Linked DNA regions of Homo sapiens. The protein of the gene in region 2 purifies or fractionates together with the protein of the main gene of each other region. This does not show direct contact. Each region holds a gene or a part of one and is shown on either strand. Other genes may lie near its edges.

Evidence for each region.
Region 1: the proteins of HAVCR1 (region 2) and DDR2 purify together in Homo sapiens (affinity purification with mass spectrometry, with the first as the bait; one large-scale study listed by BioGRID). This does not show direct contact.
Region 3: the proteins of HAVCR1 (region 2) and TNFRSF10B purify together in Homo sapiens (affinity purification with mass spectrometry, with the first as the bait; one large-scale study listed by BioGRID). This does not show direct contact.

What each region holds. Positions count from the first base shown.
Region 1 is NC_000001.11:162,785,125-162,788,005, forward strand, and holds the end of DDR2 (discoidin domain-containing receptor 2 precursor), read left to right. Parts: 3' UTR 1-2,281; downstream 2,282-2,881. UniProt on the Homo sapiens protein: Tyrosine kinase involved in the regulation of tissues remodeling. It functions as a cell surface receptor for fibrillar collagen and regulates cell differentiation, remodeling of the extracellular matrix, cell migration and cell proliferation.
Region 2 is NC_000005.10:157,034,986-157,038,645, reverse strand, and holds part of HAVCR1 (hepatitis A virus cellular receptor 1 isoform a precursor), read left to right. Parts: intron 1-1,284; coding exon 1,285-1,399; intron 1,400-3,660. UniProt on the Homo sapiens protein: Phosphatidylserine receptor that plays an important functional role in regulatory B-cells homeostasis including generation, expansion and suppressor functions.
Region 3 is NC_000008.11:23,037,945-23,041,604, forward strand, and holds part of TNFRSF10B (tumor necrosis factor receptor superfamily member 10B isoform 1 precursor), read right to left. Parts: intron 1-3,660. UniProt on the Homo sapiens protein: Receptor for the cytotoxic ligand TNFSF10/TRAIL. The adapter molecule FADD recruits caspase-8 to the activated receptor.

The DNA.
Region 1 (2,881 bases), on a different chromosome or scaffold from region 2:
AAACTTAGAAAGATTAGGCAACACAAAACACAGTAAGACCTGTTCATAGCTTGTTGTCTAGAAAACCAGGTAGCAGGATATTCTAGATGCTTCCTGCTGCTTCTACGTGAGTAGGATTAGCACTGGGGACAAAATAAGGAGTTTAGAGTAAACCAGTATTTCAGTCAAGAGTTAGTTGGCACTTAGTTAATGGCACTGGAAATAGCTTGTGGAGAGAATAGAATACAATGGTATAGACTCCTAATGTTTGATAAAATACTATTTTCAGAGTGGTAGAGAGGTTTTATTTGCCTAAATAGCCGTTATTAAATGGAATAACAACCACATTAGACCAAATTAATTGCAAACACAGCGGCAACCTGGGGAGAAGTTGAAACTCCAGTTTTGTGGATTACAGTTTTGAGTTTTATGATTGACATTTTTAAGTCCCCTATTTAAGGGGTCAAGATTATAACAATGTGTGTCTTACTAAGTTTCTAGGTCATTGTGAGCACTTGATAAATATTTGCTGAATGTTGTTTTTTTGAATGAACATAAGATAGAAACAAAAACTTCTCATCCAGTTAACTAGAGTGAATGTAGGGAGAATTGTTTTGCTTGTAACATGGAGAGTTTATTTTCAAGTGAGGAAAGAGAAAAAAATTACTCAGACTTGTTCCTGGTGAAGTGCATTCTCTGTTTGTATACTTTTTGATGGAGAAATTGATCTATAGAACTGCTTAATTTTTTGAGGCATTTAGACAGCAATGAAAGGTAGTTCTCCACAGGACACCGAATCAAAAGGAGAGACCAGACTCTGGCCTCATACCCAGCCTATTTGAAACAAGCTATCTAGTTTCTCCTGCAGACACCTTGTCAACAACATGCAACAGTGTCAGGTGCCTTGCAGGAAAATAATCTGAGTCCCAAGCTAGCCTGTGCTCATCCACAATCACAATGAACATGTCAAGGAAGAATTTGCAGAGACTCAAGGGAAGCACAATGGGATAAGGTAATCACTTTCAGTGAAAAACTGTTTTCTTGAAAACAGGCTTGGACACAATTGAAAGCTGGCTTCCTGCAAACACACCAAGAGTCTGTAATCTAGCCTATCCATTATATGTCCTTTATTATTCATGATATCCTATTCTTCTACCTTGTTGCCTGGTAACTTTTTCTGAGGACTGAGTTTCTGCAGCGATGTGGTGCACTCTTCCTGTGATGAGGAAACATCTGGGCCCCCTTCTGCAGGCTTTGGAAGATGATGTGTCTTGTCAAGGGGTAAAGGGCAAATGGATTTAATTTCTGCTTAAAACTATCATAGACGTTCCAAATAGAATATGTAAAATTTCTCTGTATTAGAAAAAGAAACGTGATACCAATTGTATATTTTCTTTTCTTTATTTATTCTCTGTAAGTCTGTCAGATGATAAATTGTAAATAACAATGATTAAAGAGTCATGCTACTGATGGATCTCCCTTTCTGTATAAACAGTGCCAGTTCTGGGCTTTGTAACCTTTGCTCTTTATAGTCTTTCATTCCTGGGGAAGTGATGGGGCATGGGCCCAGAGCTGGGGTGTATGTGGTATGGACACCTGTTTGTGGGGCTTTCCAGCAAAGGATTATTTAAATAGACCTCTAACATATGAGTTGACTGTTTATTGGGAAGAAAGCATCTTGGTCTCTGACATATCCAAACATACGAGACACTGGGATTTTACGTCCTCACATTAATTAGTCCAGTTCTGGGGAATCCAGTCTAGAATTAACTGGTGATCCCTTATCGTTATGGTTACAGACTTGTCTTGTTTGATACACAGAAATCCTTTTTAAATCCAAATATAGTCTGTCTCAGACTACCTGCACATGCACAAACCAAAAAAAACTATGAAAACCAGAATTTAGACTCAGTCATTATACTAGAGATTAGAATGAAACGACCCCAAACAACCCATTTCTTACCTGGTCTCTGAGAATAAGTTTATACTTTTAGTTTTCTGAGAATATTTCTCAGAATATGTGAGTTTTCTGAGCACATTTTTCAGCATGGGGTATGGTAGATAAATCACAGGGCCAAGGTTTGGCAGGGATAGATGGGATCATTGTGTACCCTATTGTTCTTCTGATTTCCAGGAGAACAGAATGAGCCCATGCAAAACATAAACTTATGATGATTAAAAAAAACACACCTATCCATTCACTCATCAATAAAAACATATTATGATGGTTATCAAGCTGTGTCCTATGAGTGATAAAATATTTGTAAAATATAAAATTAAATGGCATCTATTTTGAACTCTATTCTAGTCTCTCTGAGCACCTCTAGCAGTTCAGCCCATCTTTCAAAAGTCATAACACCTTGAAAGCAGCAACTTTAGTGCAGAAAAAGGAAGAAGAGAGCAGTTTCATCACTTGGCTTGAATGAAAATCTTGGGGAAAGGAGAGACAGACGGTCTTGCTCTGAAGCTGTCTGGACTTCACTTAATTCAGTCTGTCTTAGGCTGGCGGTCATCCCGAGACTGCGGTAATGCTGAGCCTCCACAGCCCAGGCCCTCTCCCTTCTTTATAGAAATGATTTTTTTATGGGACAGCCACACAACCAGGTCTTCTTCTTATTCCTTATCACCTCTGAGCTCTAGAACATTTTAAAATGAGTCTTTGGGTCTAGACTCTCACAATTAGGCTTAATTTTACTCCATGACTTTCAGAAAATGTTGTTAAATTGTGGTCTCTTTAGAACAGTTGAAAGTGGGATAAGCGTAGGAGCTGAGTTCCACCCCCATGATAAAGAAATTTTATTGGCCGGGCGCGGTGGCTCATGCCGGTAATCCCAACACTTTGGGAGGCCGAGGCAGGCAGATCACTTGAGCTCAGGAGTTCAAGACCAGCCTGGCCAACACG
Region 2 (3,660 bases):
ATGCCGCTTCTAAGCAAGCATGGCTCAAATGCTGTTACTCCACTATATTCATAGTGTTTATCAGGAAGGACCTGAAAGTACCCTTGCAAAGAACCCTATTGAATCTACTGTCTATGTCTATTGCTAGACATAGAAATAGATTCAGAGAGGCTAAATAGCTTGTCCATGGTCACATAGTGACTAAGTAGAAGACCTGGGATTCTGACTCCAGGGATTAAGATTTTACAAATGAGAAGATTTGTCCTTCACTCAGATTCTCCCCCTTCCTTCTATTAAAATACCTTCCCGGTGGGCTCTCTTTAGGATTAGAACTAAGCCATGAAATGGGGACCAGCAGGAAGCCAGGCACATTTCAGGCCTATTCCAGGAGGTGATGATCTCTTGTGATAGGCACCAGAAGACTTAAACAATTTTACATTTCTTCATGATTGCATAGCGTTGAATTGTTAATCATGGCCATGTCTGTGTGCAGCTACTCTCAAATCTATTTATTTAGATAGAGACAGAATCTTCTATTACAGGTAAAAAGACAAGTAAGGACTGTAACCAAGGACAAAATTCAATAACTGAGCACATTAAGATAACATCACATCAAGTCAATTTATATAAACAATTTTTTTTTCTTTTTTTCTTTTTTTCGAGATGGAGTCTCACTCTGTTGCCCAGGCTGGAGTGCAATGGCGAAATCTTGGCTCACTGCAACCTCCCGGGTTCAAGCAATTTTTTGCCTCCGCCTCCCAAGTAGCTGGGATTACAGGCGTGCAGCACCACACCCAGCTGATTTTTGTATTTTTAGTAGAGATGGGGTTTCACCATGTTGCCCAGGCTGGTCTCGAACACCTGACCTCAGGATGCCTGGGCTCCCAAAGTGCTGGGATTAGAGATGTGAGCTACCATGCCTGACATTTTTTCTTTTTTAATATCACAAGAGGATGTATTTGTGGAAATAGCCTATTGACTTTTAAAACAGTAAATTAAAAAATTTACATACAAACCCATTTTAAGCATACAGTTTTAGTTTTGACAAATGTGTACACCTATGTAAATACAACCTCAAGCAAGCTAGAAAACACCTCCATCATTGTAAAATATGTTTTGCGTTTCAAGTTGTCCTAGATTTTCACCGTATGGTTATAAACTGAGATCATTTGGTCTTACCCTTATGTTCCAGAAGTCCCCAAGCACCAATACAGGTAAATGTGGCTGGGTAAGTGATTCTGGGAAATGTTTTCTCTTCATAACTTTCTAACAAGATGCTTTTTTGATCTGTTGTTGTTTCCTCAGCAACTGTTCCTAGAACATAGTCTACTGACGGCCAATACCACTAAAGGAATCTATGCTGGAGTCTGTATTTCTGTCTTGGTGCTTCTTGCTCTTTTGGGTGTCATCATTGCCAAAAGTAAGTCATTTCGAGATTGTTCCTAAGGGACAAGGGATGTACAGCAAAATTGCCTGGGTTCACTAGTTTCATAAGTCACATGATTTTGATTTCACACGACTTCCCTTTGTCTCCCCAAATCCTCATTTGTAAAAGTCACATGGTAATACCATCTACCTCAAGGGGGAAGGGAAATGAAGTTTAAATGCATTGGTACCTACAAAGCACTAAGAATGGGAGCTGGGTGTGGGGTCTTATGCCTGTAATCCTAGCTACTTGGGAGGCTGAGTGAGGCAGGAGGATTGCTTGAGCCCAGGAGTTCAAGACTAGCCTGAACAACATGGTGGGACCCCATTTCTTAAAAAAAAACAAAAACAAAACAAAAAAGCAAAACAAAACAAACAAACAAAAAAACCATTAAAAAAAGCACCAGCCAGGAGCAGTGGCTCATGTCTGTAATCCCAGCACTTTGGGAGGCTGAGGCAGGAGGATTGCTTGAGCCCAGGAGTTCAAAACCAGCCTGGGCAACATAGTGAGACATTGTCTCTAAAATAAAAGGAAAAGAACAAAAAGAAAAAGCACTGAGAATGGTTCCTGGCACATGACAAGTGCACAGCAATCTTAAACTGTAATTGTAGTTAGAAAGATCCTTTTGCCATAAATCTCTATAAATCTCATGGAAGTTACATTCTAGTGGAGTTTTCACTTAAAACCACTATTTTTTAAACTTGTTATTTTTCAATTATTATTCCCCTATGGAAAAAATTTAATTCTATAAGAATTTTTTTGAGACAGAGTTTCTCTCTTGTCTCACAGGCTGGAGTGCAATGGCACGATCGTGGCTCACTGCAACCTCCACCTCCTGAGTTCAAGCCATTCTCCTGCCTCAGCCTCCTGAGTAGCTGGGACTACAGGCGCCCGCCACCACGCCCGGCTAATTTTTTGTATTTTTTAGTAGAGATGGGGTTTCACCGTGTTAGTCAGGATGGTCTCGATCTCCTGACCTTGTGATCCGCCTGCCTTGGCCTCCCAAAGTGCTGGGATTACAGGCATGAGCCACCACGCCCGGCCGAATTTTTGTATTTTTAGTAGAGACGGGGTTTTGCCATGTTGGCTAGGCTGGTCTCAAACTCCTAACCTCAGGTGATCCACCTGCCTCGGCCTCCCAAAGTTCTAGGATTACAGGCATGAGCCACAATGCCAGGCCAAGAAAAACTAAATACAGGTGTTCCTCAGTACCCTTGGGGGATTGGTTCCAGAGCCCCTTGATTCCAAAATCTGCAGATGCTCAAGTCCCTTATAAAATGGTGTAGTATTTGCACATAGCCTACTCACTTCCTCCAGTATACTTTAAATCTTCCCTAGATTACTTAGAACACCTAATATACAACGTAAATGCCATGTAAATAGTTGTTATATTGTATTGTTTTTATCTGTATTATTATTGTTGTGTATTATTTTTATTTTTTTTTTAATTTTCAATTTGCGAGTGGTTGAAACTGAGGATGCCAAACCTGTGGACATCGAGGGCCAACTGTATCAAGAAATAGGAGTTTGTTGGGTAGTGTTGCGATCTGGAAGTCAACACACCATTGTGATATATAAGATTTATTTTCTCCACCCTACAAGATCTAATTTTTTTCCCTGTGGGGGTGATATTGTTAAAATTTTGCAACACTCATTTAGCAGAAGAGGCACATGAGACACTGGGAGGGGAAACTGATAGCAAGACACAGACTAAAAAAGTAAAACAAAAGTCTTCAAAAAGCAACCACCCCAGGCTTCATGTCTCCCTTCTGCTAACTGTGTGTGTGTGTGTTTGTCTCAGTATAACCTGCCTCCCATAAAAGAACCCTAGTTAGCTATTTTGCAAGATGTGGTATTTGAAGCCATGACTGATTTAGTTCATGGGTCTAGGCAGAGGAGAATCAGAAAATTAAGAGTATGTTTGGCAAATTTGAGGAAGTTTTTATATAATTATTTTGGAGCTTGCTTAGTCAAAGTTATTTAGAAATTGGGTAAAATACCTTGCAGGGAAGTTCAAACTTTCCCTCTGAAATTTTGATACTTGAGTACGCCAAAAAAAAAATAGATTATTAGGAGATTAACAGGAGAAAATGAATACATATTTATTATGTGTACAGAAGCCACACAAAATATGAGATGGAAGAAAGGGCCAGATGACTGGAGCTTAAATACCCTTTTCTTTCTTTTTTTTTGGAGACAGAGTCTCTTGCTCTGTCACTCAGACTGGAATGCAGTGGTGTGATCTCAGCTCTGTG
Region 3 (3,660 bases), on a different chromosome or scaffold from region 2:
GAGTTTCAGAGGGAGGAATGATTCCATGAGGAGACACAACAGTGATTCTGTGTAACTTGAAGACTGCCACTTGGCCACTTTGGGTTCCTCATGCCTCTGAATCAACAGGCGAAAACCAGTTACACAAACCCTGCTGGCTGGATTGACTGATTCTGAACACAAAGGGGAAATTGAAGGGAAAATTGGACTGTTATTCCACAATGGACGTAAGGAAGAGGATGTCTAGAATACAGGAGATTCCTTAGGGCATCTCTTAGTATTACCATGCCCTGTGAGTAAAGTCAATGGAAAACTACCACGACCCTATTAAAGCAGGACCACTTATAGCTCAGACCCTTCAGGAATAAAGGTTAGTTCACTCTACCAGGCACAGAGCCATGACCAGCTGAGGTGCTTAGTGAGGGCACAGGGAATACAGAATGCACAGCGAAAGAAGCTTCTTATAAATACCAGCTACAATGACATGACCAGCTATGGAAATAAGGACTGTAATCATTATAAGTATTTCTTCCTTATTGTGTTATGTGTGTGTGTTTATGTGTAAATATATGTTAAGCGAATATCTGTGTTTTCTTCCTTCTCTTATCCCCTTGTTATGTAACACAAGATATTTTGAATTTATATCATAGTATTTAAGTATTGTTCACTTTATAGTATTTATGTTCCAGGGTATCAAGGAAAGGAGTAAACACCACTCAAGAACTTTGCATCCTCTTCTGGAGAAAGGGTTAGTGCGTTTTCAGTTGTATACAGGATAGCTGTATTATGTTAGGTGGAAATATAATCTTATTATTTCCATTACTTGGAGATCAAGTATGGTTTAAAAGAATTTCAAATCTTTAAAAATTCTGTATTAGTCAGGGCTCTCTAGAGCAGGGGTCTCCAACATTTTTGCCACCAGGGACTGGTTTCCTGAAAGACAATTTTTCCACGGACTGGAGTTGGGGGCATGGGGATGGTTTCAGGATGATTCAAGCATGTTACATTTATTGTGCACTTTATTTCTATCACTATTATATGGTAACATATAATGAAATAATTATACAACTCACTATAACGTAGAATCAGTGGAAGCCCTGAGTTTATTTTCCTGCAACTAGATGGTCCTATCTGGGGGTGATGGGAGACAGTGACAGATCATCAGGCATTAGATTCTCATAAGGAGTGCGCAACCTAGATCTCTCAAATGTGGAGTTCACAATAGGGTTCACGCTCCTATGAAGTCTAATGCTGCCGCTGATTTGACGGCATGCAGAGCTCGGGCAGTAATGCTCACTCATCTACAGCCCACCTCCTGCTGTGTGGCCTGGTTCCTAACAGGCCACGGACCAGTACTGGTCCATGGCCTGGGGGTCAGGGGCCCCTGCTCTAGAGAGATAAAGATTTATCTTAAGGAATTGGTTCACATAACTGTGGAGGCTGGCAAATTCAAAAGGTACAGGATAGGCCAGCAGAGAAGAGTCACAGCTCAGGTCTGAAGGCTGCCTGCTGGCAGAACACCCTCTTTCTTGGTGGAGGTCAGTCTTTTTTCTATTGAGGCTTTCAACTGATTAGATGGGACCTGCCAACATTAAGGGGGTAATCTGCTTGACTCAAAGCCCACTGATTTAAATGTTAATCCCATCTAAAACCAACAACAAAACAACAACAACAAACACACCTTCACAGAAACATCTAGGATAATATTTGGCCAAGTATCTGGGTAACCAAGTTGACACATAAAATCAACCATCACAAGTCAACCTTGCTCCATACACATACATGTCCTTAAGATCGACGTCAGTGGTCACACAACGTGCAAGGATGTGATCTATGACAGCAACAATAGAAAGCTGGAGAGATGGAGTGGTACAGGAGCACAGTATTTGGATTGCAATGAAATTCTGCCGGTATTATAAAACTACCTGTTTAGATACTTAAGAAGGTAATTGTAATCTTCAAGGAAACCAGTAAGAAAATAAGTTTTAGGCTAGGTGCGTGGCTCATACCTGTAATCCCAACACTTTGGGAGGCCGAGGCAGGTGGATCACTTGAGGTCAGGAGTTTGAGACAGCCTGACCAACATGGTAAAACCCTGTCTCTGCTAAAAATCAAAAATTATCCAGGCATGGTGGCTACTCCCTGTACTCAGGAGGCTGAGGCAGGAAAATCGCTTAAACCCAGCAGCCATAGGCTGCAGTGAGCTGAGATCGCACCACTGCACTCCAGCCTGGGTGACAGAGCAGACCCTGTCTCAAAAAATATATATATATCTATATATATATTTAAGATATGTATCTTTAAGATATATACTAAGTATATATTTAAATATATATTTATTAAATATATATATAATATATATTTATTAAATATATATAATATATATTTAATAAATATATATACAAAATATATATTTATTAAATATATACAAAATATATATTTAATAAATATATATACAAAATATATATTTATTAAATATATATACAAAATATATATTTATTAAATATATATATACAAAATATATATTTATTAAATATATATACACAAAATATATATTTAAGAAAAACAGAAAATATATTTTAAAATATGCAGAAAAGAAAAGAAGTGAGTGAAAATGGTACATGCCAAGAAATAAACTAAAGTTTTTTCAAAAGGTGATAAGGGAGGAACAAAATATATATAAGACATAAAGAAAACAAATAACTGAAGAGCAGAAACAAATCTTTTCTTGTCAATAACTATGTTAATTGAAAATAGTTTAAACTCTGCAATTAAAAGGCAGAGAGTGGCAGAATGAGTAAAAACAAACGCAAAAAATAGACCATAATCACCTATATGCTAGCCACAAGATTCCTGAATTATTTTTATTAATATTGAAAGACATTCTAAAAAATCCAAATTACACAAACCTTACTTAATAATGTAAGTATCATACATAATCATAGTGATTCATGTCACTGATAAAAACGTGATTATTTAATAATAGTGTTGGGGCAACCAAAAAGGTGGCTGTCAAATAATAATGTGTCTTCCTCACTCTCCTCTTACTACAAAATGAAGTCCATGTGGCTCAATGACTTAATTACAAAATAGGAAACCACAAAATGACTGCAAAGATATATGATAATTTTTTTTTTGTTGTTTTTTTTTTTTGAGACAGGGTCTCACTCTGTCACCCAGGCTGAAGTGCAATGGCGTGATCTCAGCTCACTGCAACCTCTGCCTCCCGGGTTCAAGCGATTCTCCTGCCTCAGCCTCCCAAGTAGCTGGGACTACAGGCACGCCACTATACCCAGCTAATGTTTGTATTTTTAGTAGAAACAGGGTTTCGCCATGTTGGTCAGGCTGGTGTCAAACTCCTGGCCTCAAGTGATTTGCCCACCTTGGCCTCTCGAAGTGCTGGGATTACAGGTGTGAGTCACTGCGCCCGGCGTTATATGGGAATTTTTATTAGAATTTTGGACCCAGCGCAGTGGCTCACGCCTGTAATCCCAACACTTTGGAAGGCCGAGGTGAGAGGATCGCTTGAGCCCAAGTGGTTGAGGCTACAGTGAGCTATGATCCTGCCACCGCACTCCAGCCTGGGCAACAGAGTGAAATCCTATCTCAATCAGTCAATCAATCAATCAATCAATGTATAATTTCCCTAATCTGTAAGAATTCATGTGACTCAATGATTTA